Regions from separate parts of the Homo sapiens genome. Here all the other regions are linked to region 5. Evidence: fine-mapped QTL for protein levels in blood plasma. A gene starts in region 5. Each other region holds a variant in brackets. All regions are shown on one strand. Distances are between the middles of the regions. Region 1 overlaps LOC101928516 (a long non-coding RNA gene). Region 2 overlaps LOC101928516 (a long non-coding RNA gene). Region 3 overlaps LOC101928516 (a long non-coding RNA gene). Region 4 overlaps LOC101928516 (a long non-coding RNA gene). Region 5 holds the start of CD109 (CD109 molecule). Region 6 overlaps LOC101928516 (a long non-coding RNA gene). Region 7 overlaps LOC101928516 (a long non-coding RNA gene).

Evidence for each region. PIP is the chance, under the fine-mapping model, that this variant and not a neighbour inherited with it causes the effect. The UK Biobank Pharma Proteomics Project read protein levels with antibody pairs (Olink). The fine-mapping took linkage between variants from a reference panel, not from the people measured, so its PIPs are less certain.
Region 1: its variant is fine-mapped to the plasma level of the CD109 protein (UK Biobank, PIP above 0.99).
Region 2: its variant is fine-mapped to the plasma level of the CD109 protein (UK Biobank, PIP above 0.99).
Region 3: its variant is fine-mapped to the plasma level of the CD109 protein (UK Biobank, PIP above 0.99).
Region 4: its variant is fine-mapped to the plasma level of the CD109 protein (UK Biobank, PIP above 0.99).
Region 6: its variant is fine-mapped to the plasma level of the CD109 protein (UK Biobank, PIP 0.93).
Region 7: its variant is fine-mapped to the plasma level of the CD109 protein (UK Biobank, PIP above 0.99).

The regions. Positions count from the first base shown.
Region 1 is chr6:74,250,202-74,254,283 of GRCh38, forward strand. The region is part of intron 1 of LOC101928516 (a long non-coding RNA gene); the gene reads left to right. Among named protein-coding and RNA genes, the nearest start is that of CD109, 560 kb to the left of the region's middle. The variant C/T (reference allele first, on the strand shown) is at 2,275.
Region 2 is chr6:74,574,678-74,578,677 of GRCh38, forward strand. The region is part of intron 2 of LOC101928516 (a long non-coding RNA gene); the gene reads left to right. Among named protein-coding and RNA genes, the nearest start is that of SNORD156, 550 kb to the right of the region's middle. The variant AAAAAG/A (reference allele first, on the strand shown) is at 2,344.
Region 3 is chr6:74,554,830-74,558,911 of GRCh38, forward strand. All of the region lies in intron 2 of LOC101928516 (a long non-coding RNA gene), which reads left to right. Among named protein-coding and RNA genes, the nearest start is that of SNORD156, 570 kb to the right of the region's middle. The variant G/A (reference allele first, on the strand shown) is at 2,317.
Region 4 is chr6:74,212,142-74,216,223 of GRCh38, forward strand. All of the region lies in intron 1 of LOC101928516 (a long non-coding RNA gene), which reads left to right. Among named protein-coding and RNA genes, the nearest start is that of CD109, 520 kb to the left of the region's middle. The variant C/T (reference allele first, on the strand shown) is at 1,813.
Region 5 is chr6:73,693,478-73,697,556 of GRCh38, forward strand. CD109 (CD109 molecule) reads left to right here and starts at 2,726. Exons shown (of 33, transcript NM_133493.5): 1 at 2,726-2,812; 2 at 3,923-4,079. The coding sequence starts at 2,739. CD109-AS1 (CD109 antisense RNA 1) reads right to left here and starts at 2,654. Exons shown (of 2, transcript NR_110889.1): 1 at 2,355-2,654; 2 at 426-2,098. RefSeq lists enhancers at 2,356-2,615, 2,569-3,283 and a silencer at 2,846-2,895.
Region 6 is chr6:74,447,426-74,451,507 of GRCh38, forward strand. All of the region lies in intron 2 of LOC101928516 (a long non-coding RNA gene), which reads left to right. Among named protein-coding and RNA genes, the nearest start is that of SNORD156, 680 kb to the right of the region's middle. The variant A/G (reference allele first, on the strand shown) is at 1,848.
Region 7 is chr6:74,339,108-74,343,185 of GRCh38, forward strand. All of the region lies in intron 1 of LOC101928516 (a long non-coding RNA gene), which reads left to right. Among named protein-coding and RNA genes, the nearest start is that of CD109, 640 kb to the left of the region's middle. The variant A/T (reference allele first, on the strand shown) is at 2,147.

The DNA.
Region 1 (4,082 bases), 560 kb after region 5:
ATAGGCAAGGAAATCAGTGATTGCAGTATAAAGTGGTAACTGTCTTTAGAAGTTGGTGTGATCTGTTTGATATTAGATGTTTCTTGGCTGCTACTTCTGGAGTAATTTTTAACGGTGCTATGTAAGAATTCCATTGTTCACATAAGTATGCAATGGAAGGTCTACTTTTCAGCTCAGATTCATTTATTGTTTCTCACCCTCTTTCCACAACCCAGAAGGTACTTAGTGAGTCTCCTTAAGTGACAAATAGTATTTGACTCTTTCCATTAGAATTACTCATGATTTCTTTTCCCTTGTCTAATATTCACAAGATTTCTGCTAGAACAGAGAGAATACAGTCCTCAGAAATACAAACACAAATTATTTAGTTTAGTTAAATTATAAGGCTGCAGCATTGCATACACACAGGCAGTATTTTGTTGAGTAAAATGGCAGGAAGCCAAAACTTTTATAGAAACCCGCTGATAATTCAACACTTAAAAACTATGATTTAAAAATGTACAAGTGAAAGATGATTTCTTAGAAATGCAGTAATCTTTTAGCAACCATATCAATGCTGATAGCAGGGGACAAGAGGGTCACAAAGAGATTCCAGAAAAGAATAGGTTCTTTGTCTTGCTTACTCTGGGTTAGTTATTACCAGTTTTCTGGTAAGGAAGAATTAGAGGTAAATATCAGAACTTACTAAACATACCATAGGTCACTGTTTAGTGGCCACTATTTTCACAGGGGTATGTGAAAAATGTAACTCCTTCCCTTTTCTTGCATATCAATTTGAGCTCACTTAGCCAGCCCTCTTTCTGCTAGATAGTAGGAAACTTTATCTAGATAATTCCAGGTGAGCCTAGACATCATCCAATGTTTCACCAAGTGTTTTTTTTTAATTCCCATTTCTCTGTCCTTTTCTTCATGAAATCATCTAAGATTGGCTAGGGGCGGTGGCTCACGCCTGTAATCCCAGCACTTTGGGAGGCCGAGGTGGGCGGATCACGAGGTCAGGAGATCAAGACGATCCTGGCTAACACGGTGAAACCCTGTCTCTACTAAAAATACAAAAAATTAGCTGGGCATGGTGGCAGATGCCTGTAGTCCCAGCCACTCGGGAGTCTGAGGCAGGAGAATGGCATGAACCCGGGAGGTGGAGCTTGCAATGAGTGAAGATTGGGCCACTGTACTCCAGTCTGGGCGACAGAGCAAGACTCCATCTCAAAAAAAAAAAAAAAAAAAAAAAAAAGAAAGCATCTAAGATCTCCAGCTTTGGCAGAACTATCAATCCATGTTGGCACCTGTCCAGATGCCTGTGTTTGCCTGTCTGAGCTCTGCTCCTGGTGACATGGCCTCTCCAGATCTACAGATTGTTTCTTAGCTAGTATCAGGCTCCTTTGCTATTTTACTTGGCACTTTAAGATGGGACTGTGGAAGATTCTCTGGGCTACAGGCCAGCTGGCCAGGCTCCCCTGCAGCCATTCTGTCCCCACTTTACCAGGGAGGTAGGAGAAACTTTGGCAAGGTTGCCACCCTTACAGTCCGGACAGGCAGACTGTACACTTCTTCTACTCTGGGACTCCTCTAAATCTATCTTTCAGTAGAGATCTGCCTGGGGCACCTAAAAGGTGCCCTCCACCTTCTAGGACCTAAGTGTTTTTAGGTAGTTTTGGGGTAGAAGGTGGTGATAAAAAATTCCCATGTTATCACATTTTCCTTCAAATATTACTATGATACAGCTAGACTGTGCTTTCAAAATGAAAATCTGCGAATTTTATGTCTCGTTTGTCCCCTGATTCTGCACACCTTGGGGTTAATGGAAGACTTATATTTAGTTCTGTCAGGTAGTATGAAAAAACATGGTACTGTGAAGAGAAGCAGCTTTTCTTTACAACGTGCATGGTGATTCTTGAGAATTCTGCTGTTGTCTTCATAAATTTCTGGGGTTAGTAATGCCTCCAGGTGTCTTTGCAGGTAAATATGTCTACTAGGTTTCCTTTCAGATGCAGCTTTAATGCTTAGGGCTGGTAAAGCTGGTAAGAACTATTCTTGGAGAATTCCATCTAACAGTTTATCTGTGTCTAGAGTAGTAACAGTTGCTTATGTGAAGAGAACAAAGAATTACAGAAGAGGAATTATGTTAACATTTTACTTCAGAGACAGGTTTAATTTATTTTACTACATGAGCCCCTTTAGATACGGAGCTGATAGTAATTTCTTGCTGAAAGAACTAAAACGACCACTTCATTGGAAACTCATTAAGGAAAATGCCTGTGTATTATAACATCA[C/T]CTTAGTCCTTACTTGTAGAAGAGCACATAATAGTCCCTTAAATTTTATTGAATGAGTAGAATTTCAGGCTACAATGTACCAACTTGCCCTATAAATTTTGTCAGGTAATGTTGGTATATTTTTCAAACACATTTCTTAGGACTATCAAAAAAAAGCAGAGACAGAAATTAAAGTGGTAAAGGGAAATTTTATTCAGGACTATTGCAATAGGGGAAGAGAGACCCCCATATAGAACTGGGCTTCATTCTAAATACATCAGGGATAAGTAGGGATTTATAGCCAAAGAGCAGGGATCAGAAAATTTTTATGTATTTATTTATTTATTTATTTATTATTATTATACTTTAAGTTTTAGGGTACATGTGCACAATGTGCAGGTTAGTTACATATGTATACAAGTGCCATGCTGGTGCGCTGCACCCACTAACTCATCATCTAGCATTAGGTATATTTCCCAATGCTATCCCTCCCCCCTCCCCCCACCCCACAACAGTCCCCAGAGTGTGATATTCCCCTTCCTGTGTCCATGTGTTCTCATTGTTCAATTCCCACCTATGAGTGAGAATATGCGGTGTTTGGTTTTTTTGTCCTTGCGATAGTTTACTGAGAATGATGATTTCCAATTTCATCCATGTATCTAATTAAACTAAAGAGCTTCTGCACAGCAAAAGAAACTACCATCAGAGTGAACAGGCAACCTACAAAATGGGAGAAAATTTTCGCAACCTACTCATCTGACAAATGGCTAATATCCACAATCTACAATGAACTCAAACAAATTTACAAGAAAAAAACAAACAACCCCATCAAAAAGTGGGTGAAGGACATGAACAGACACTTCTCAAAAGAAGACATTTATGCAGCCAAAAAACACATGAAAAAAATGCTCAGAAAATTTTTAAGAAGAGATACCAAGTCTGGGGGAAATTCTGGCAGAACCAACCTAACAGGATTCCTGCTGAAAACAGGCGAGGGTGATCAGCTAACAGGAGTGGGCAGAGAAAAATTTTGATCAGATACTGAGGGTGATCAGATATCAAGGATGAATAATTCTTGCTAAACTGTGTTGGCCGTATTATTTGCTAAAACTGGGTTTTAGAATGATGTGCACAGACAGGCCCAGGAGAAAGTCCAGAAGCCTGACTAAAGTTTGGCCAAGCAAAGAACTGTTGTTAGAATACAGTCCCACAAGAAGCCAAATGACAAAATAAATATATATATATATAAACAACAGAAGAAGAGCTTCTGGCAAGTAAGTTTGAGAAATAGCTGTATATCACATGCACCTTTGAAAGTGTATTTTAAATAACATTATACCAAAATTTCTTCATTTGTTCTTTCTGTATCTACTCTATTAATATGCTGCTTTATTCTTTTTCTCATTTATTAAACATTAGGATTTAATATACTAACTTCTTTTCTATTATTAATAACTGATCATCATGACACTCATGATTAATTAAATGTTTCATTACATAAGAATGGCATTGGGGCAATATGGAAAAAAGAGGTAGGTTTTATTTATCTATAGATATTTATTTTATTTTATTTTTTTTTGAGTGAAATTCTGCTTTATTTTATAATTAGAAAGGGCCAAGCTTTCTCCTGGTTCAGCAAACCATCTCTGATGAGCAGGTTAGGGGCAGGTTACCAGACTACCCACCATTCCCTTTTGTCAGATGCTCAGACTGCTCAACCGTAAGGGTTGGTCCTGCCTCAGAACCCACTCTGGTCATAGAGATCACAAACTAGGGTCCATCTGTCAGTCCTGACATTTCTCTAGGGGAAGGTGGAAGGAGAGAATTAG
Region 2 (4,000 bases), 880 kb after region 5:
CACACATGCAGAAGAAGTTGCATTACCAAATATGGTAGTAAATCTAAGTGAGTCAACTGTTAATCTCCTTTGGCAATACCTTCACAGACATACCCAGGATCAATACTTTGCAACCTTCAATCCAATCAAGTTGACACTCAGTATTAAACATCACATTAGGATAAGCCAATCAGCACACTTCATCCTCCAGATGCAGAGAATGGTTCAAAATAGTCAAATAAACTTAGCCGCTATAAATGATGAACATTTATAACAACTTTTTCTGCTAAGACAATGACACTGTCCTACTTGATGGGACTATAGGAATTTGTAGAACTGAGAGATTATGGAAGCCATCTGGTGGTCTTGAGGCGTAACTGCCTGTGATGAAGCCTATATCAAAACAAACGAGGAGATAGACCAAAACCAGGTCCTTCGTGTCGATGCTGGGCCATTAGATAAAGCCTCTACCTGAGCCAGCTTTACCTGTAGACATTTTAGGATATTACATTCTATTAACTGAATAAGCAAGTTTTGAGTTGAGTTTTCTATTTCTTACACCCAAAAACATCCTATTGCTTCAGTCTGCAGTTTCCTGTTTAATTGATAGAGGAAAGCAGTGTATTCAGAAGTCCCTAAAATAATGAAGGTCAGATTTTGAAATTCTTATTAGACTGTAACTTTTATTAATTTTTATTGTTAGCTTTTGTTCTAGGTTCAGGGGTACATGTGCAGGTTTTTTATATAGGTAAATGGCATGTTGTGGGGGTTTGGCATACAGATTGTTTCATCAACCATGTAATGAGTATACTACCTGATAGGTAGCTTTTCAATCCTCACCCTCCTCTCAACTTCCACCCTCAAGTAGGCCCAGTGTCTATCGTTCCCTCCTTTGTGTACATGTGTACTTATTGTTTAGCTCCCACTTATAAGTGAGAACATGCAATATTTGGTTTTCTGTTCCTGCATTAGCTTGCTTAGGATAATGCCTCCAGATCCAATGATGTTACTGCAAAGAACATGATCTCATTCTTTCTTATGGCTGTGCAGTATTCCATGGTATATATGTACCACATTTCCTTTATCCAGTCTTTGGTATTTAGGTTGATTCCATAGACTGAAACTTTTAAAAAATAAGTAGGATGGTGTTCTCTAGTGGTTTGCTTATCAAGGGACTGCCTCCATAAATAGGGTGACCATTAGTCTGATTGGTTTGCAAGAGAGTCCCTAGTTTATGCCTCTTGAACCAGCATATTTTTAAAGAGCTCCTCATTTCATAATTAAGTATCCTGGTTTGGACAATAAGTTCTATGGTCGCTGTACTAATAACATATCCAAGGCTCAAACAATTATTTAGCTTTGGTATCTCTATTATCAGATGAAACAGAGGTTAAAGCACATCAGTTTAGAAACATTTTTTATCTTGCTCATCACCATATTCCCATTGTTTAGAAGGGTGATGGGAACATAGTGGGATGACTATTTTTTGAATGAAGGAATGAATGGTGCCAGTGAGCATGACTTATGAGACCATAATCCAAAGCCATATAGCCCCTCTAATGCCAGTTTACTTGTCTCCAAAATAGTATTAAAAATAAATATACCCCATCTACCTTATGAATTTGTTAAGAGGATCAAATAAGTTAATTGTGTGAAAAGCTAGCAAAAATTTAAAATTATATATACATGTGGTATTTAATTATATACAAAAGAATGCAAATGTTACAAGTTCTTTCAATTTCTACCCAAGTAATAAATATACCTAAATTTGAGTCACCAACAGCACCATACTGCTTCCATACATTATCATAACCTTTTCCCCCAATTTTAAAGCACATTGAAACAGATTAAATAATTCATCAGAAAAATCAGATTATATATGGAAAAATTCCATCAAGAAATACGTTGAAAAATTCAACCATTACCATAACCTTTAAATTGAAATTCTATGTATCTACAAATATGGTAACTATTAGCAAAGCTTTATTTTTCTTAGGCATCAGAAACAAATTATTTTATTGTTTTGTCATTGATTCAAGTATTTAATAAGATCTTATATGGAGAACTTATAGATTATTTTAGAAAATACACTTCAGGCCAGCTGCGGTAGCTCATGTCTGTAATCCCAGCACTTTGGGAGCCCGAGACTGGTGGATCACCTTAGGTCAAGAGTTTGAGACCAGCCTGACCAACATGGTGAAACCCCATTTCTACTAAAAATACAAAAAATTATTCGGGTGTGGTGGCAGGCGCCTGTAATCCCAGCTACTCAGGAGGATCTCCTGAGCCTAGGAGGTCAAGGCTACACTGTGCCGTGATCATGCCACTACCAAAAAAAAAAAAAGACTAAGAAAAGAAAGAAAA[AAAAAG/A]AAAAGCAACTGAGTGAGGGCAAAAAGAAAGAGAAAGAAAAGCAAGTGAGGGCAAACAGTACCTGAGGATATGAAATATTTAAGGAAGGGCTAGGGACAAGATATCTCTGGTGTACCCACCGGTCCAGGCTTTTGCTATTGTACAATAGGGAAGCAAGGAAAATAAAAGAAGGTGTGAAGTAAACCTCTTGGTTTAGTGATTATCAGAGCTTGAATAGAAACAGAGTAAACTTGTCTGTAGAAAGATCAGTCAATGATGGAAATGTAAAGACACTTTTATCAGGTCCTTAAGCTCAGTATCAAACTGGAAACCAATAATTAAGTTCTAAATACTTATAATTTATTTTTTCATTTTTGTGAGTTTGGTCTAATGATCAAGCATCAGCATAATTTTGCTAAAAATAAATTTATGTTGCCTTAATATAAGAGCAACTTATTGACTGTGTCAATATAAAGGTGGAAAGTTTTAAAGCCCAGTAGAAATATTCTAAGTCCAAGAATAGCTTTGCTCATTCACTGGATAATTGTTTTTATATTAAGTGGGTGAGAGGCCAAACTGAGGCTGGACCCTGCATCTCAGGGCTGGAGCCTGGACTGTGGCTTAGGTTTCTAGAGGTATCATCAATACCCCTTTCCTGCAGCCAGAGAGACCACAGGTCCAACAACAGGAATACCACCTACAAAGGAATCTATGGGCTCACATAGTGAGGCTGTGTAACAAGAAGGGGAGAGCAATAAATTATCTACCCATTAGAAACAGGAAGGGAGACAGTGTGTGATAGCCAAAAAGCAGAACAGAAAGAACAGCTGAGAAGGCCTGAGAACCAGGTGAATGGCCTGGAGGAAGGATGGGGGCAAGCAATGTGGATAGCTGGACTCAGGGGGGTTGACCATTTAATATTGTAAACTGCTGAAACACAAGGGCTCAGGGAACTCTGATTATTTTTGTAGGCAAGCAAATATACTGCATGAACAAAGAATAGTTCTTGTATTATTTGAATTTAAAATGTAATTCTTAGGTAACAATATAGGAATTCTGTGGATCTTCATGAACTAGTTTCTGTATCAAGTTTGACTACATTTTATAGGATGAGAGTATATAATTTCATTGGCATACCTTCAGGGAAAGATCTGGAAAAAAAAACAAAAACAAAAAAAAAAAACAAAAAACCTTGCCCATTTTGTCCCAAAAAAGGCAAAAGCTCTGGGGAACCAGGATGAATCTGTTATTTCCTTTAATCCCCTAATAGTAAGGTTTTAATAGGTTCTTAGACATTGATCAGAACCATCTGAGGGTGGTAAGTGGGTCAAGGCTTAGCTCTCTGCCCCTGTTTGCTGTCTGTCCACACAATGGAGTATGTGAGTGAGTAAGCCTGTTGGAAGCTTATTTTTAGTTTCTCTAAAAGGAATTACACATGGGCATCAAATGAACAGTTAGGCCTTTAATGCCATAAAGGATCTGTTCCACACAGATGCAAGAATGTAAGCATTGTTTGTGATCTCTAAAGAGCAATTATATCAAGCAGGAAGGTTTTTTTTTTTCCCCTTCTGTGAAGTATATCATTTCTACACTACTTGATATTTTAGTTAGTTCTTCCTACTATGATTCAGAGGTTTTCTGGTGTTTTATTTAGAAATACCAGATGTTACAC
Region 3 (4,082 bases), 860 kb after region 5:
AAAGAGTCTGCTTGAGACAATTACAGTGAAGGTAAAGGGAACTTTGTCTTGCACTGTAGATACCAGCATGGCCACAGTGGGGTAGAACACCAAATGGGCTCCCGAGGTCCCCATTTGCAGGACTGGACTCTTGGACAGCATCTCTGAACCTGCCCTGGGCCAGAGGGGAGCCCACTGCCCTGAAGGGTGAGTCTCAGGACAAGCAGCATTCAGCACAAGCTTACTTAAGAGCCCTTGGGTGGGCCTTAAGGGAATATCTATGGTAGTCTGGCAATATTTCTCATGGCCGGTAGCAGGTGAGGCTCCTCTACCTTTGGAAAGGGGAGGGAATGGTGGGAAAGACTGCATCTTGTGGTAAGAGTTCCAGCTCAACCGCAGTTCAATAGAACATAAGGTAGACTGCTAAGGTTTTTGAGCCTTATTTCTGACTTCCGGATGGCACTTCTGGACTTACCCCGGGCCTAAGGGGAACTTGCTGCTCTGGAGGAAAGGATGCAGGTCTGACTGGCTTTGCCACATGCTGATTGCAGAGTGTCAGGGTGTTGAGTGAAAATGTGTAATAGCAAGGGATTAGTTACAGAAGGCCTTGGTGAGGCCCAGGACTATGCTGACCACAGGTCTGACCCAGTGCAGTCATAGTGGTGGTGACCAGAAGGGGGCTTATGTCATACCACCGTCAGGTTTAGGTGGCTCAAAACAGAGACCTATATCCGGAGGAAGTGTCTATTCCAGTGAAGACAAACCTCTGCCCTTTCTGATGGAAGAGGTCCAATATAATCAACCTGCCACCATGTGGCTGGCTGATCACCCCAAGGAATGGTGCCATATCGAGGGCTGAGTGTTCATCTCTGCTACTGGCAAATTGGGCCCTCGGCAGTGGATGTAGTCAGGTCACCCTTTGTGAGTGGTAGTCCATGTTGCTGAGCCCATGTGTAACCTCCATCCCTACCACCATGACCACTGTTCATGGGCCCATTGGGCAATGACAGAGGTGCCTGGGGAAAGAGGCTGAGTGGTGTCCACAGAAAGGGTCATCCTATCCACTCAATTATTAAAATCCTCCTCTGCTGAGGTCACCCACTGGTGAGCACTAACATAGGATACAAAGATCTTCACAGTTTTTGACCACTCAGAGAAACCCATCCGCATACCTGTTCCCCAAATCTCTGTCACCAATTTTCCAATCATGCTTCTTCCAAGTCCCTGACCATCCAGGCAAACCATTGGCCAGAGTTCATAAATCAGTATATTATCTCACATCTGATCATTTCTCCTTCCATGCAAAGTGCACAAACAGGTGCACTGCTAGAAGTTCTGCCCACTGGAAAGATTTCCCTTCACCGCTGTCCTTTGGGGATGTCTTAGAAAGGGGTTGTAGTGCTGCAGCTGTCCACTTTCTGGTGATGCCTGCATATTGTGCAGAACCATCTGTGAAGCAGGCCCTAGTCTTCTCTTCCTCTGCCAACTGATCATAGGGAACTCCCCATGAGGCCATCAGTGTAGGGTGGGGGAGAGAAGACAAGGTGGCAGGAGTGGAGACCATGGACGTTTGAGTCACTTCTTCATGTCACTTACTTGTGCCTTCAGGATCTGCTTGAGCCTGATCACATATATATCACTTCCATTTGATGATGGAATGCTGCTGTGCACGACCCACCTGATGGCTTGATGGGTCAGAAAGCACCCAGTCCATGATAGGCAGTTCAGGTCACATGGTGACTTGTTGACCCATAGTCAAACGTTCAGTTTCCACCAAAGCCCAGTAACAGGCCAAGAGATGTCTTTCAAAAGGAGAGTAGTTATCTTCAGAGGATGGCAGCACCTTGCTCCACAATCCTAGAGGCCTCTGCTGTGATTCACCTCTCAGGGTCTGTCAAAAACTCCAAACAGCATCTCTATCTGCCACTGACACCTCCTTGGATCTGCAGACTCATATGGCCCAAGTGGGACTGCAGCATGCACAGCAGCCTGGACCTGTTGCAGAGCCTTCTCCTGTTCTGGACCCCACTCAAAACTGACAGCCTTTCAGGTCACTCGATAAATGGGCTGGTGTAACATATCCATATGAGGAATATGTTGGGTCCAAAATCCAAATAGGCCCATTTGGCATTGAACCTCTTTCTTGATTGTAGGAGGGGCCAAATGCAGCAACTTATCCTTCACCTTAGAAGGAATATCTCGACAGGCCCCACACCACTGGACCCCTAGAAATTTTACTGAGGTAGAAGTTCCCTGAATTTTAGTTGGATTTATTTCCCATCCTCTGGCATGCAAATGTCTCATCAATAAGTCCAGTGTGTTTGCTACTTCTTGCTC[G/A]CTGGATCCAATCAGCATAATGTCATCAATGTAATGGACCAATGTGATATCTTGTGGAAGCAAAAAGTGATCAAGATTTCTCTGTATAAGATTATGACACAAACCCAAATGTTGATCTGCCCCTGAGGTAGGACAATATAGGTTATTGCTGGCCTTACCAGTTGAAGGCAAATTGCTTCTGATGGGCATTATGGACAGGAATGGGGAAAAAGGCATTTGCCAAGTCAGTGGATGCATACCAGGTGCCAGGAGATGCATTCATTTGCTCAAGCAATGAAACCACATCTGATAAAGCAGCTGCAATTGGAGTCACCACTTGGTTAAGCTTACAGTAATCCACTGTCATCTTTCAAGATCCATCTGTCTTCTACACAGGCCAATGGGAAAGTTGAATAGGGATTTGGTGGAAATCACCATCCCTGTGTCTTTTAAGGCCTTGATAGTGACACCAATCTCCACAACCCCTCCAGAGATGCAATATTAGTTTTGATTTACTATTTTTCCAGGAGGAGGCAGCTCTAATGGCTTTCATTTGGCCTTTCCCACCATAATAGCACTCATCTTACCAGTCAGGGAGCCAGCGTTGGGGTTCTGCCAGCTGCTAAGTATGTCTAGGCCAATTATGCATTCTGGCACTGGGGAAATGACCGCAGGATGAGTCTGGGGACCCACTAGACCGACTGTAAGTTGAACTTGAGCTAAAACTATATTATTTCCCTGACTTCCATAAGCTCCTACTTTAACTGGAGGACCACAATGACGTTTTGGGTCCCCTGGAATCATTGGCAGCTCAGAGCCAGTGTCCAGTACTCCCTGAAATATCTGATCATTTGCCTTTTCCCAATGCACAGTTACCCTGTTAAAAGGCCAGTGGTCTCCTTGGGGAAGGATGGGAGAAAGATTCATTGCATCAATTGTTGGTAATGTAGTGGGGTCCTTCTTCACAGAGACCTGGTCTTCCCTTCATTCAAGGGGTTCTGGGTCTGTAAACTGGCTCAAGTCTGGAAACTGACTGAGGGGCCTTGATTATCTGTTTTTATAATTCAAATTAGTCTTTTGTTCAATTGACCTAGAAGTTTTCTATTTATATAAATTAAGTAGGAATGCAGTAGGCTTCCTATCAATTTCACTTCCAGGAACACTGTGATTAATTAGAAAAGGCCAGAGCTCTACAGAAGTCAGACTATTATGATTGGTATTTTGCCTCTGCTATCCTTTATGGTAGCTATGCCCACCTTGCCTTTGATGGCTGAGTGCCGCCACGTGGCTCCTGACACCTCAAGATCCAATTCCCATTGTATTTAAATTTTGTAGTCGAGTGACTGTCGTTTCCACTCTTAGATCTGACATACAGAGAAGAGCAATTACAGGGCTCTTCACTCACAGATGCAGGTGCTGCCTTCACAAATCTATTTCTCAAGGCACTGGTCAAGAGGATATTTTCTGAACCCTCCCAGCTGGGATGAGTAGGTCTAAATAAGTAATGCACTCCACTATCCAAATGTCCCTAAGCCTTTGGATCTTTTCCTCTACATTAAACCAAGGAAGATCAGGCATTTCCAGCTGGCTCATAGTGGGCCATCTTTTAATCTATATTTCAGCTAACCAAGCAAATAAACTATTAGAACTATTTTAACTCCTCGAGCTGTGACATTAAAAGCAGAATCCCTACTTAGTGGACCAAATCAATAAATTCTGCCTGTTTCAACTCTGTATTCCTTCCACAATTATCCCACACCCTTAATATCCATTCCCATGCCTGTTCT
Region 4 (4,082 bases), 520 kb after region 5:
TTTTGTATGTTCTTTGGGGGAGGAAAACAGACTTACTTAATGAATCATTTTACAGCCTAAAAGGATAATTAGAAAATATAATATTCCATCCTTACACACACACACACACACACACACGGATTTTTCAAATAATTTTAAGAATTCTGAAATTTATAATTTCTTTTTTTTTGTGTGTGTGAGATAAGGTTTCATTCTGTCACCCAAGCTAGAGTGCAGTGGCATGATCATAGCTCACTGTTACCTTGAACTCCTGGGCTCAAGTAATGCCCCTATCTCAGCCTCCTGAATAACTAGGACTATAGGCGTGTGCCACACACTGGCTAACTTTTAAATGTTTTGCAGAGACAGGGTCTCACTATATTGCTCAGGCTGGCCTCACACTTCTGGCATCATACTCCTGGCCTCAATTGATCCTCCTGCCTTGGGCTCTCACAGCACTGGGATTACAGGCATAAGCAACCATGCCGGGATCATTTTCTTTTATTTAAATTTGAAAGGATTTATAATAAAAGAAACTTCACTATTATTCATCTTATACTACCTTTGGTATAATGTTTTCTTATATCACAAGAGAATAATTCTTTTAGAAATACTTTCTATACATATATTTTTCTATGCAAGTTTTAGTAGATTGGTCTAGGTGAAAAAAACTTATTTCAAAGAAGTTCTGGGAAAGAATACATTTTTCGCCAAGTGGATTTATATAAAGAAAATTAAAATTGCATAGTATAAAAAGAACTATTATACTAAATGTTGACTAAAAGTTTTATATGGTTATGCTTTGTATCATGATTGAGATTGCAAGCTTCTTGAGGATTGAAATCAACATTTTCTCTTGTAAACTCTTTCTGTTATGATAGAATATCTCATAATAACTAATTATTGGACCATGTATTCTTTTTTGCAATATATGTGGCTAACAATTTTGCTGTTGTTTATTTTTATCTATATTTGCATTTTTGAAAACTTTATTAATAATTGCAATTTACTATTATAATTATGTTGACCTTAAATCAGTCATTTAGAAAGTAAAGTAAATCTCAGTTTTCTTCTCTTAGAAGATTTTCAGGTAAGTTAAATATAATACTTCATAAGAATGGCTGTCAAAATATTAGACAAATCATCTATATGGTAAAAGGCAATATACATGGAAATTAAATCATTCTTAAGACTCACAAAAATGAAGAGAATAAAAAGAAAATCAGCGTTGGCAAAGGAACTGTGAGTCAGTAGTTCCAAATTTCATCAAAGACTTAAAAAACAAAACAAGAAAAAAACAAAGAAAGAAACCAGATGCACATTTGAGTCCCATCTATGGAAAGTATTCTATATTTTTATGATTTCAACAAAGGTACTAGAATAATAAAATGATGATTATGCTTCAGTAGGACTCATAAGTGAATAAGCAAGTTCTTAACATTTTTTTAACACTGTCATTTTAACACTGTCAGTTGATGGTACTTTTGCCATCAATTAGGAATCAGGATTTCTCTGATCCTAATTGAATTCAATAAAATATCCTTGAAAAGTTGCAGTTTGCAAGGTTGAGAATAGATACCAACTCATAGCTGGATGTGCAAAGTAGGTGCCATAGTTATGGAGAATTACAAGGAAAGGAATTGCAAAAGTCCTCAAATTTGAATAAGCCACTACAACTGGTAAATTATGGCAGACTGAAGAGCACACTGGGGGGAGTGCTGCTGGCTTTCCCAATCTATCTGTCTGTCTGTCTCTCCCTCTCTATCATCTGTCTCAGCTTAATTGAGGTATAATTTACATACATTAAAACTTAGCTATTTTAAATCAACAGTT[C/T]GCTGAATTTTCTTAGTGGTACAGAGTTGTGCAACCAGCACCAAGATCCCTCTGAAAAGTTTTCTCCTATACTTCTGCAATCGATCCCCTCCCCTGACCTTTGGCTGTAGGCAGCCACTGATCTGCTTCCTGCCACTTCAGGTTTTCCTCTTCTAGAGTTTCATATACATGGAATTAAATAGTACGCAGTCTATTGAGTCAGACTTGTTTGATTTAGCATGATGGTTTTGTGAATCATCTATGTTGTTTTGAACATTAGTATTTTTTTATTGGTAAGTAGTAGTATTATATGGATATATCTCACATTGCTTATACATTTACTTAGGCATTTGGATGGTTGCCAGTTTTGGACTATTATGATTAATGTTGCACTGAACATTTGTGTACATCTTTGTGTGTTTTCATTTGTCTTGGATGATTCCTGGGTCTATGATAAGTGTACGTAAAATTTTGTAAAGTACTGCCCTACTATTTCCTAGAGTGGCAGTATCATTTTCCCTTCTTACTAACAATGAGCAAGGGTTCCAGTGGCTTCACAGTCTCAACAGTGCTTGATGTGATCAATCTTTAAAAATTTTAGCCACTTCAGTGAATATGTAGTGATATGTCATTGTGATTTTTAATTTACATTTTCCCGATAGCTAGTAATATTGAGCATCTTTTCATATGCTGCTTTTACATTTGTATATATTCTTTCATGAACTGTCTGCTTAAGCCTTGTGACCATTTTGTAATTGAATTGTCTTCTAATTACATGGTAAGAATTCTTTATATATTCTCTCTGTATAAGCCCCTTGTCAGATGTATGTTTTGAAATAATTTTTTCCAGTTCATGGCTTATCTTTTTTATTTTCTTAAGTATGTATTTCAAAGATAAAAATATTTTAATTTGATGTTAAAATAATAGTTTATAATATTCGATATGATTGTAATTATTTTTAAAATATTTTAGTTATTCATTACAAATATGTAGAAATAGTTTTTTTGTATGTTGGTCTTTATCCTGCAAACTTATTAATTGATTTATTATGTCTAGTAATTATGTATATTTTGTCAGGTTTTCCACACAGATAAACACAGTTTTATTTCTTTTTCAATCTGTATTACTTTAGTTTTTTTTTTTTTAATTTTATTGCTCCAGTGCGATGTTTAATAGAAAAGGTCAGAGCAAGCTTAAGGGGATATCATCTAAGCTTTACCATGAAGTATGATGTCAGTTTTAGATTTTCTCAGATCTCCTTTATTGTGTTGAGGAGGTTTCTTTCTATTCCTAGTTTGCTGAGAATTTTCTTTTCCTTTCTTTTCTTCACAAATAAATGTTGGATTTTTTTTCAAATGCTTTTTCTGCATCTGTTGAGGTGATCATATGGTTCTTCTTTTTATACAATTAATTCTTAAATGCTGAACAAGTATTGCATTTCCACAATAAATCTCAATTGGTCATGCTGTATTATGTATATATACTGCTAGATTGGATTAGCTAAAATTTGTGTTAAGAATTTTTGCATTTGAGGCCAGCCTGGACAACATGGTGAAACCCCGTCACTACTAAAAATACTAAAAATTAGCCAGGTGTAGTAGTGGGCGCCTGTGATCCCAGCAACTCAGGAGGCTGAGACAGGAGAATCACTTGAACCCAGGAGGTGGAAGTTGCAGTGAGCCGACATCGCGCCATTGCACTCCAGCCTGGGCAACAGAGCGAGACTCCGTCTCAAAAAAAAAAGATTGCATTTGGATTCATGAGAAATATTTGCCTATAGTTTTCTTTTCTTATAATGGTTTTCTCTAGTTTTGTTATCAGTATAAACACTGGCTTTATAGAATGAATTGGAAAATATTTTCTTCTCTTTAATTTTCTCAGAGACTGTGTTGAATTAGTATTATTTCTTCCTTAAAGACTGAGAGAGTTCCCCTCTATAGCAATCTAGGTCTGGAGATGTCTTTGAAACAAAAAAAAGTGTTAACTACAAATTTAATTTCTTCAATAGTTATAGAGTTTTGAGGTTATGTATTTCTTCTTTAGTGAATTTTATTATGTGTCTTCCAGGAAGTTTGTACATGTTATTTGATTGTCAAATTTATTGTCATAAAATTTTTCATATATATATATATATATTTTTTTTTGAGATGGAGTCTCTGTTGCCCAGGCTGGAGTGCAGTGACGTGATCTTGGCTCACTGCAACCTCGCCTTCCAGGTTCAAGCAATTCTCTTGTCTCAGTCTTCCAAGTAGCTGGGACTATAGGAGTGCACCACCACACCCAGCTAATT
Region 5 (4,079 bases):
TTCAGCATCAGCTTTGGGCGACAAACATCCAAATGACAGCAAACCCAATATCTTATTGTTACATGTTCAGACCATTTTCAGTTTTTCTTTTGAGACAGAGTCTTGCTCTGTCACCCAGACTGGAGTGCAGTGGCACCATCTTGGCTCACTGCAGCCTCCACCTCCTGGGTTCAAGTGATTGTCATGCCACAGCCTCCTGAGTAGCTTTTATTACAGGTATGTGCCACCATGCTGGGCTAATTTTTGTATTTTTAGTAGAGACAGGGTTTCACCATTTTGGCCAGGCTGGTCTTGAACTCCTGCCCTCAAGTGATTTGCCTTCCTCAGCCTCCCAAAATGTTGGGATTACAGGCATAAGCCACCATGCCCGGCCCATTTTCAGTGTTTCTTTTTTCTTTTCTTTCTTTTCTTTTCTTTTTTTTTTTGAGACGGAGTTTTGCTCTTGTTGCCCAGGCTGGAGAGCAATTCTGCGATCTCGGCTCACTGCAACCTCCAACGCCCAGGTTCAAGCAATTCTCTTGCCTCAGTCTCCTGAGTAGCTCGGATTACAGGCATGTGCCACCATCCACACTTGGCTAATTTTGTATTTTTAGTAGAGATGGGGTTTCACAATGTTGGTCAGGTTGGTCTCGAACTCGTGACCTTAGGTGATCCACCCGCCTCGGTCTCCCAAATTACTGGGATTACAGGTGTGAACCACCACGCCTGGCCTCATTTTCAGTTTTTCTTAATAAAAAATCCCACTTCTGAGATGAACATTTTTCATTAATCCTTTTAACACATTTTTATTGAATAGCTACTCTGTGCCAGGCATGTAATAGCCTCATCTCTATGCAAATCCATATGCCTAAATTTTTGCATGACTACGCCTTTCGACAAGTGTGTATTGTGGGAAGGAGGGCATAAACAGGAAGGTGGCATCACTTTAAAATCCACACAGATTTATACAATGTGGTTCTAAGACTTTCTGTAAGTCTTCTCGGGAGGCAACATTATCATCTAATCTTTTGCAGTCCCTCTTATGTTTGCCTACCTCTAGAATGAACCTGAATTTATTAATCCACCTTTATGAAGTGAAAGATTGAGAAGAATTTTCTGTGTTCTTAATTGCCTTTGCTCATCAAATTGCCCCCAAATTGCCCCCACTTGTAGAGTCTCCATGGCCTACTGTCTGCTAAAGTAAAGCAGAATCCCAGTCCTCGTTCCAGACCTGCCAAGTCAGAGTCTGTTTTCATGTGATTCTCACACACATTGGCATGTGAGAAGCACTGAGTTAGACCTTGGTGCTTGGCCCACCCTTGACCATGGTCCTCCTCTCTGAACAACGGAGGTGAGGAGACCAGTAGTAACAGCTGTGTCAGGAACAGGTCAGCACCCAGGGATCCACACAGACACTTTTGACCATTCCTAAGTCCTGCCTGCACAGGAAGTTGGCCACTAAAGATAGGCTGCCTGAAGGAAAGGACATAAGGACCTTTGCAAGCTGTTCAGCAGGGAGAAAAAGGGTGGAACAGGAAAGGGAGGAAAGCAAGTTTCTGGATTCCCCAAACCACAGTTTGTCTAGGTGCTACTTTCTCACTTTTCCTTATTTAGCACATAGCTTTGTCATGAGACATCTTTTTGCTGACCTCTTTTCCGTTTGCATTTTGCCCCATATTAGAATGCTACCATCTAAAACCGCTCCATGAATTAGAAAGTTTAAGTTGTCAGGGACTGAATGTGTCTGTTTTCCAACAGTTTCTGGCAGTTCCCTGCTTTTATGGTGTAGTCATGGTGAAACCTGAGTCATCTGAAGATGGTGGCAGTGCCAGAGAGCAGGAGAGAGGAGCTGCAAAGAAGCCAGACAGCGTTGGGCATCAATAACTCCTGGGCACCACCGGCCACTGGCCTTCATTCTGACAGGAGAGCCAACCCAACCCTAACTGTGTTCAGAGATTGCTCCAAGCTTTACAGTTCTACCAAATTCTTTCTGTAGCAAAAATATAAAGGCATCTTCTTAGGTAATTTTTTTTCAGGGTTCCAAGTAGCAACACCTAACGTCTGCAGTGCGAGTTCTCTTCTTCTTTTTTTTTTTAAGGTGATAAATCATAACATTTTCCTGGAAAGGAAAGCAGTAGACCTCATTTTTTGTTTTAAGGAAAAATAGTTTTTCTGTTTCCATTCATATACATTAAATAACTACCCAGGAAATACGCCCCGGTTTTGCGCGCGTGTGCGTGCGTGTGTGTGTGCGTGTGTGTGTGTGCCGTTTCTCTAAAATTCTGACTCATAGTCTGGAGGACAATGATTGACTTTTTTCCACTTCACATAGTTGCTATGAATTTCTCCTCACAAGGATGGGCCTGTTTACTCACCCTGGGCATCGTTGGTAGAGCGCTAGTGTAAACAGCCTGAGGAACCCGGTGGGCCGGGGAAGTGGGCGCGCTCTGTTCTCCGCGGCCAGCTGGGACGCCGGGCCAGGTGGGGCCGCCTGCGTTTAGCAACTGCTTTCTCACCCCCTGGATTTGCGATGTTTGCCACAGCAGCGAGAAGCGCCATTGTAATGGGGATGGGAGGGGTGGAGCCTCCAAGTCCTGTCTCAATTTAGATCTCTCACTCTGCTGTTAGGCGCGCCCATTTCAGATTACTAAACTCGAATTAAGAGGGAAAAAAAATCAGGGAGGAGGTGGCAAGCCACACCCCACGGTGCCCGCGAACTTCCCCGGCAGCGGACTGTAGCCCAGGCAGACGCCGTCGAGATGCAGGGCCCACCGCTCCTGACCGCCGCCCACCTCCTCTGCGTGTGCACCGCCGCGCTGGCCGTGGCTCCCGGGTAGGAACGTGGGCGCGCGGGGGGCGCGCGGGCGCGCGGGCCTGGGCCGCTCTGCGGCTCTGGGCCAGGGCTTCGGGGAGGTGGCGGCTGCTGTGCAGCAGCGGGTGGGAAATGCCCTCGCGGCTGCAGTCCCCAGCCTGGTACTGGCCTGGAGGTTTGACCATATGTAGCTTCAGCGTGGCTCTCCATGGGACAGTTAACTTTCTCCACTCATGAAGTTGTTTAAGCGTCTCCCCGGCCATAACAACTTTCTGAAGAGAGTCATTTTATTTTTAGTCCACATTGCCTCTGCCTTTTGCTTCTCAACTTTTTGCTCCCAGATTGCGATTCTTCTCTCAAAGACATGATATATTTTTTCTAACCAAGATGTCTCAACCTTAGCATTGCCAAAGTGTGGCGGAGGGGACTGATGTATGGGTTCAGGGGCAGACATTATAGGAAGAAAACAACAGCACCCAATAATGGCAAGCCCCATTCATTCCTAAAGATTTCTGTAGTTGAGCCCTAACCCCTAGTTATAGCAGAGAAAGTGCTGCTTTAGTGACTTCTTTTATGATTCGCTATACCTGGAATTTTCACCAGTTGTAGTTTATTTTCAAATGGTATATTTCAATCAATGGTATTGGTTAAATAATTTTTTACCCTCGTTGGGCAGCTACTCAAGGATAAAGGTTTGAATAAGAAACAGGCAAAATCTTAGTTAAAAAATAACAACAACAACAAGAAAATAATCACGCTGGGATAAGGTCCTCTGTAAAGGAGAAGCTTAGAGACTTTTGCTTTGCCAATAACTCCATTATGCCCCGGTGCAAGCCATTTACATCATGGTTCCTTCTGTGCGGTTCGTGGTTTATAAAATGGAAATAATAACACAGGCCTTCCTCTAGTAGTGATGCATGAATTACTGCATTAAAATTGATTTATGGGAATTATTGTTGTTTCAGTAGCATTTCAATTCAGTTGCCAAATAGAGCAGTGGGCAATGTTAACGGAAACAACTGCAATTGGCGCAGTATGGAGTGCCTATCGCACTAGGAAATCTGAGGGTCACAAAAGAAAGGAGATGTGAGGATAAGAAACTTTGTTTTTCCCTTGTTGGGAACTCTTTAGGCCTCGGTTTCTGGTGACAGCCCCAGGGATCATCAGGCCCGGAGGAAATGTGACTATTGGGGTGGAGCTTCTGGAACACTGCCCTTCACAGGTGACTGTGAAGGCGGAGCTGCTCAAGACAGCATCAAACCTCACTGTCTCTGTCCTGGAAGCAGAA
Region 6 (4,082 bases), 750 kb after region 5:
ATAATAGAAAACATTTATTAAAAATTATTGATCCATTTTATAGGATTATAACTAACAATTACTAGAGAATTTTAAGCATAATTACAAATAGCAAAATGCATTTAAAAAACTACATAGTGGAGTTCTGATATAAATGTATAACTTTTCCTCTGTTGAAATTGATAAAACCTGTTTTAATATAATGGTGACTTTTGTTTTGCTTTTCAAATAACAGCAACTTCTTTTTTCAGTTTGGATTATTCTCTGTTATGTGTCTCACACTATATTTCCTCTTCCCTGGGCTGTGCTGAAGTATCTTGTTTTTTTTTTTTTTCATTTTTTTCCCCAGCTTTATTGAGGTATGATTGGCCAATAGAAGTTGTGTGTGTGTATATATATATATATATATATATATATATATATATATATACATATACATATCAATCAAAACTTGATGTTTTGATACATGTAAACATTGTGAAATAATCACCACAGGCAAGCCGCGGTGGCTCACGCCTGTAATCCCAACACTATGGGAGGCCGAGGTGGACGGATCACGAGATGAGGAGTTTGAGACCAGCCTGGCCAACATAGTGAAACCCCATCTCTACTAAAAATACAAAAAATTGGCTGGGCATGGACACGGGTGCCTGTAATCCAAATACTTGGGAGGCTGAGGCAGGAGAATCGCTTGAACCCAGGAGGCAGAAGTTGCAGTGAGCCAAGATGATGCCCACTGTGCTCCAGCCTGGGTGACAGTGTGACTCCGTCTCAAAAAATTAAATAAAAAATAAATAACAGTAATAACAATCACCACAATCAAGCTAATTAACATATCCATTATACCACATAGTATCCATTTTCTTTTCTACTTTTGGGCTTCTTTTTTATTTATTTATTTATTTTTTTTGTGGTGAGAACACTTAAGATCCACCCTCTTAACAAATTTCAAGTATACAACATTGTTAACTATAGTCACAATGTTGTACATCAGCTCCCCAGAACTTATTCATACTGGATATCTGAAAGTCTGTAGCATTTGGCCAGCATCTCTCCGTCTCCCCCTCCCTCCAGCCCCTGGCAAAATCCAGCAGAACTCTGATTCTATGAGTTTGATTATTTTAGATTTCATATATAACTGAGATCATTTAGTACAGGTATTTGTCTTTCTGTCTGACTTATTTCACTTAGCATAATGTCTGCAAAGTTCACCCCCATGTTAACTAAATGGCAGGATTTTCTTCTTCATTAAGGTTTAATAATAAAAAACACATTCCCTCTATAAAAAGCAAGCAGGGATGGTGTTCATGGTGGAGGTAGGAGGTGAAGTGAAAGACTGAATTGACTATCTGCTGTTTTTCCTAGAGTTGACCCCAGATATAAAGATTCAGAGTTTTTCATCAAAGTAATATTTTATATTTTGATTGTAAAACTTTATGCAAAATCAAATCAGTTACATTGATTCCCATTTTTTACAAATTAAGGGCATTTCTGGTTTTCTGTATTCCATTTATGATTTATTAAAGACATTAAGAACAAATCTTGGATTTTACTTGTGGACTATATCATTTGCACAATGACATCAATTCTTTATTTTTTTCTTTCATCCTTCACCTCCTCCCAACCTTCCTCTCAAGATCTCAAAATCCATTACATCATTCTTATGCCTTTGCATCCTCATAGCTTAGCTCCCGCTTATAAGTGGGTACATACGATGTTTGGTTGTCCGTTTGTGAGTTACTTAAGTTAGAACAATTGTCTCCAACTCCATCCAGGTTGCTGTGAATGCCATTATTTTGTTTCTTATTATGGTTGAGTAGTATTCCATAGCATATATATACGACATTTTCTGTATCCACTCATTGGTT[A/G]ATGGGCATTTAGGCTGGTTCCATATGTTTGCAATTGCGAATTGTGCTGCTATAAATGTGTGCCAGTGTCTTTTTCATATAATGACATTTTTTTTTCCTCTGGGTAGATACCCAGTAACGGGGTTGGTAGATCAAACAGTAATTCTACTTTTAGTTCTTTAAGGAATCTCCATACCATATTCCATAGTGGTTGTGCTAGTTTACATTCTCACCAGCAGTGTAAAAGTATTCCCTTTTCATCACATCCCTGCCAACATCTGTTATTTTTTGATTTTTTAATTATTGCTATTCTTGCAGGAGTAAGGCAATATCTCATTGTGATTTTAATTTGCATTTCCCTGATAATTAGTGATGTTGGGCATTTTTTGATGTTTTTTGGCCATTTGTATATCTTTTTTTGAGAATTGTCTATGTCCTTTGCCCACTTTTGATGGGATTATGATTTTTCCTTGCCTATTTGTTTGAGTTCCTTGTAGATTCTGAGTATTAGTCCTTTGTTGGATGCATAGTTTGTAAATACTTTCTCCCACTCTGTGGATTGTCTGTTTAATCTGCTGATTATTTATTCACTGTGCAGAAGCTTTTTAGTTTAATTAGGTACCATCTATTTATCATTGTTTTTGTTGCATAAACTCTTTGCCTAAACCAATGTCTAGAAGGGTTCTTCTGGCTTTATCTTACAGAATTTTTATGGTTTCAGGTCTTAGATTTAAGTCTTTGATCCATTTTGAGTTGATTTTATATAAGGTGAGAAATGAGAATCCAGCTTAATTCTTCTACATGTGGCTTGTCAATTATGCTAGTACTATTTGTTGAATAGGGTGTCCTTTCTCCACTTTATGTTTTTGTCTGCTCTGTCGAATATCAGTTGGCTGTAAATATTTGGCTTTATTTCTGGGTTCTCTATTCTGTTTCGTTGTTCTACATGCCTATTTTTATATTGGTACCATGCTGTTTTTGTAACTATAGCCTTATAGTATAGGTTGAAGTCAGGTCATGTGATGCCTCCAGATTTGTTCTTTTTGATTAGTCTTGTTTGACTGTACAGGCTCTTTTTTGGTTCCATATGAATTTTAGGATTGTTTTTTCTAGTTCTGTGAAGAATTATGATGGTTACGTTGATGGGGATTGCATTGAATTTACCAATTGCTTTTGGCAGTATGGTCATTTTCACAATATTGATTCTACACATCCATAAGCATAGAATGTGTTTCAATGTGTTTGTGTCATCAATGAGTTCTTTCAGATGTATTTTGTAGTTTTCCTTGTAAATATCTTTTATCTCCTTGGTTGGGTATATTCCTGTTTTTTTTTTGTTGTTGTTTTTTTTTTTTTGCAGCTGTTATAAAAGGGGTTGAGTTCTTGATTTGATTCTCAGCTTGGTTGCTGTTGGTGTACAGCAATGCTAGTGATTTGTATGTATTGATTTTGTATCCTGAAACTTTACTGAATGCATTTATCAAATCTAGAAGCTTTTTGGATGAGTGTTTAAGCTTTCTAGTTATACTATCATATCACTAAAGAACAGTGACACCAATTCTTTAGTCTAATATTTAAATGTTAGTTAAGTCCCTAGTAATGGAATCCTTGGCTGATGTAAGAAATTGCTTAGTTTTATACAAATTACTTTTATTTTTCATAGCAATGTTACTTAATACAAATGGATAATGAATTTAATTTTCTGGAAAAACTCACTGTCCATTATGCAGATATGTATGTGTTATAATCTTATTTTCATACTCACTCATTAAAGATTTAAAATTTTAGAACACTTGCTTTATTATTTTTCTGGCCATATATTTTTTATTCTTATGTCATCACTTAAATATAAGCAGCTATGTGTTTTTATTAATAATCACTGTTTTAAAAGAATTATTTGGTTTTTATTCAGTCATGTGTCATAATTTTTTATATGCTGGGCAACAATTAGGTATAAGATGTCCCAATGAAATGAGAATAGATTACATAGGCAGATATTTTTAAGGTAAATTCCAACATCAGGTATGCCAAAATGTGAAAAATACATATTTTTAAAATGTAGGAAATAGGGTATGTTTTTGTTTGAAGACTTTTAATCACTGGGTTGCACTGAGTTGGCAAAACCTTTGGAGACTGATTCTTATTTTTAGGTATGTTGAGTCTGCAATTCTAGAGGCAATCACCAAGTATCTTTAAACTTAGCCAAATAGTTTAACTTAGGTACTTTTTTGTGAATAAAAAAGATCATTACGTAAT
Region 7 (4,078 bases), 650 kb after region 5:
ATATGTCTGTTTTGGTACCAGTACCATGCTGTTTTGGTTACTGTAGCCTTGTAGTATAGTTTGAAGTCAGGTAGCATGTTGCCTCCAGCTTTGTTCTTTTGGCTTAGGATTGACTTGGCAATGTGGGCTCTTTTTTGGTTCCATATGAACTTGAAAGTAGTTTTTTCCAGTTCTGTGAAGAAAGTCACTGGTAGCTTGATGGGGATGGCATTGAATCTATAAATTACCTTGGGCAGTATGGCCATTTTCATGATATTGATTCTTCCTACCCATGAGCATGGAATGTTCTTCCATTTGTTTGTATCCTCTTTTATTTCATTGAGCAGTGTAGTTCTCAATGAAAATAAAACTCAGTGTAGTTTTATTTGTAGCTCTTCTTGAAGAGGTCTTTCACATCCCTTGTAAGTTGGATTCCTGGGTATTTTATTCTCTGAAGCAGTTGTGAATAGGAGTTCACTCATGATTTGGCTCTCTGTTTGTCTGTTATTGGTGTATAAGAATGTTTGTGATTTTTGCACATTGATTTTGTATCCTGAGACTTTGCTGAAGTTGCTTATCAGCTTAAGGAGATTTTGGGCTGAGATGATGGGGTTTTCTAGATATACAATCATGTCATCTGCAAACAGGGACAATTTGACTTCCTCTTTTCATAATTGAATGCCTTTTTTTTCCTTCTCCTGCCTGATTGCCCTGGCCAGAAGTTCCAACACTGTGTTGAATAGGAGTGGTGAGAGAGGGCATCCCTGTCTTGTGCCAGTTTTCAAAGGGAATGCTTCCAGTTTTTGCCCATTCAGTATGATATTGGCTGTGGGTTTGTCATAAACAACTCTTATTATTTTGAGATACATCCCATCAATACCTAATTTATTGAGAGTTTTTAGCATGAAGGGCTGTTGAATTTGTCCAAGGCCTTTTCTGCATCTATTGAGATAATCATGTGGTTTTTGTCTTTGGTTCTGTTTATATGCTGGATTACATTTATTGATTTGTGTATACTGAACCAGCCTTGCATCCCAGGGATGAAGCCCACTTGATCATGGTGGATAAGCTTTTTGATGTGATGCTGGATTCTGTTTGCCAGTATTTTATTGAGGATTTTTGCATTGACGTTCATCAGGGATATTGGTCTAAAGTTCTTTTTTTGTTGTGTCTCTGCCAGGTTTTGTTATCAGGATGATGCTGGCCTCATAAAATGAGTTAGGGAGGATTCCCTCTTTTTCTATTGATTGGAATAGTTTCAGAAGGAATGGTAACAGCTCCTCCTTGTACCTCTGGTAGAATTCAGCTGTGAATCCATCTGGTCCTGGACTTTTTTTGGTTGGTAAGCTATTAATTATTGCCTCAATTTCAGATCCTGTTATTGGTCTATTCAGAGATTCAACTTCTTCCTGGTTGAGTCTTGAAAGCATGTATATGTTGAGGAATTTATCCATTTCTTCTAGATTTTCTAGTTTATTTGCGTAGAGGTGTTTATAGTATACTCTGATGGTAGTTTGTATTTCCGTGGGATTGGTGGTGATATCCCCTTTATCATTTTTTATTGCGTCTATTTGATTCTTCTTTCTTTTCTTCTTTATGAGTCTTGCTAGGAGTCTATCAATTTTGTTGATCTTTTCAAAAAACCAGCTCCTGGATTCATTGATTTTTTGAAGGGATTTTTGTGTCTCTATCTCCTTCAGTTCTGCTCTGACCTTAGTTAATTCTTGCCTTCTGCTAGCTTTTGAAAGTGTTTGCTCTTGCTTCTCTAGTTCTTTTAATTGTGATGTTAAGGTGTCAATTTTATCTCTTTCCTGCTTTCTCTTGTGGGCATTTAGTGCTATAAATTTCCCTCTACACACTGCTTTAAATGTGCCCCAGAGATTCTGGTATGTTGTGTCTTTGTTCTCATTGGTTTCAAAGAACATCTTTATTTCTGCCTTCATTTCGTTATGTACCCAGTAGTCATTCAGGAGCAGTTTGTTCAGTTTCCATGTCGTTGAGTGGTTTTGAGTGAGTTTCTTAATCCTGAGTTCTAGTTTGATTGCACTGTGGTCTGAGAGACAGTTTGTTATAATTTCTGTTCTTTTACATTTACTGAGGAGTGCTTTACTTACAACTATGTGGTCAATTTTGGAATAAGTGTGGTGTGGTGCTGAGGAGAATGTAT[A/T]TTCTGTTGATTTGGTGTGGGGAGTTCTGTAGATGTCTATTAGGTCAGCTTGGTGCAGAGCTGAGTTCAATTCCTGGATATCCTTGTTAACTTTCTGTCTCGTTGATCTGTCTAATGTTGACAGTGGGGTGTTAAAGTCTCCCATTATTATTGTGTGGGAGTCTAAGTCTCTTTCTAGGTCTCTAAGGGCTTGTTTTATGAATCTGGGTGCTCCTGTATTGGGTGCATATACATTTAGGATAGTTAGCTCTTCTTGTTGAATTGATCCCTTTACCATTATGTAATGGCCTTCTTTGTCTCTTTTGATCTTTGTTGGTTTAAAGCCTGTTTTATCTGAGACTAGGATTGCAACCCCTCCCTTTTTTTGTTTTCTATTTGCTTGGTAGATCTTCCTCCATCTCTTTATTTTGATCCTATGTGTGTGTCTGTATGTGAAATGGGTTTCCTGAATACAGCATACTGATGGGTCTTGACTCTTTATCCATCTTGCCAGTTTGTGTCTTTTAATTGGAGCATTTAGCCCATTTACATTTAAAGTTTATATTGTTATGTGTGAATTTGATCCTGTCATTATGATGTCAGCTGGTTAGTTTGCTCGTTAGGTGATGCAGGTTCCTTCTAGCCTCGATGGTCTTTACAATTTGGCATGTTTTTGCAGTGGCTGGTACTGGTTGTTTCTTTCCATGTTTAGTGCTTCCTTCAGGAACTCTTGTAGGGCAGGCCTGGTGGTGACAAAATCTCTCAGCATTTGCTTGTCTGTAAAGTATTTTATTTCTCCTTCAGTTATGAAGTTTAGTTTGACTGGATATGAAATTCTGGGTTGAAAATTCTTTTCTTGAAGAATGTTGAATATTGGCCCCCACTCTCTTCTGGCTTGTAGAGTTTCTGCCAAGAGATCCACTGTTAGTCTGATGGGCTTCCCTTTGTGGGTAACCTGACCTTTCTCTCTGGCTGCCCTTAACATTTTTTCCTTCATTTCAACTTTGGTGAATCTGACAATTATGTGTCTTGGGGTTGCTCTTCTCGAGGAGTATCTTTGTGGCGTTCTCTTTATTTCCTGAATTTGGATATTGGCCTGCCTTGCTAGATTGGGGAAGTTTCTCCTGGGTAATATCCTGCAGAGTGTTTTCCAACTTGGTTCCATTCTCCCCGTCACTTTCAGGTACACCAATCAGACGTAGATTTGGTCTTTTCACATAGTCCCATATTTCTTGGAGGCTTTGTTCATTTCTTTTTATTCTTTTTTCTCTAAACTTCTCTTCTCGCTTCATTTCATTCATTTGATCTTCCATCACTGATACCCTCTCTTCCAGTTGATTGAATTGGCTACTGAAGCTTGTGCATTCGTTATGTAGTTCTCATGCCTTGGTTTTCAGCTCCATCAGGTCCTTTAAGGACTTCTCTGCATTGGTTCTTCTAGTTAGCCATTCATCTAATCTTTTTTTCAAGGTTTTTAACTTCTTTGCCATAGGTTCGAACTTCATCCTTTAGCTCAGAGAAATTTGATCATCTGAAGCCTTCTTCTCTCAACTTGTTAAAGTCATTCTCCATCCAGCTTTGTTCCATTGCTGGTGAATGCAGCTGCATTCCTTTGGAGGAAGAGAGGCTCTCTGATTTTTAGAATTTTCGGTTTTTCTGCTCTGCTTTTTCCCCATCTTTGTGGTTTTATCTACCTTTGGTCTTTGATGATGGTGACGTACAGATGGGGTTTTGGCATGGTTGTCCTTTCTGTTTGTTAGTTTTCCTTCTAACAGTCAGGACCCTCAGCTGCAGGTCTGTTGGAGTTTGCCAGAGGTCCACTCCAGACCCTCTTTGCCTGGGTATCAGCAGTGGAGCTGCAAAACAGTGAATATTGGTGAATAGCAAATGTTACTGCCTGATCGTTCCTCTGGAAGTTTTGTCTTAGAGGGGTACCCAGCTGTGTGAGGTGTC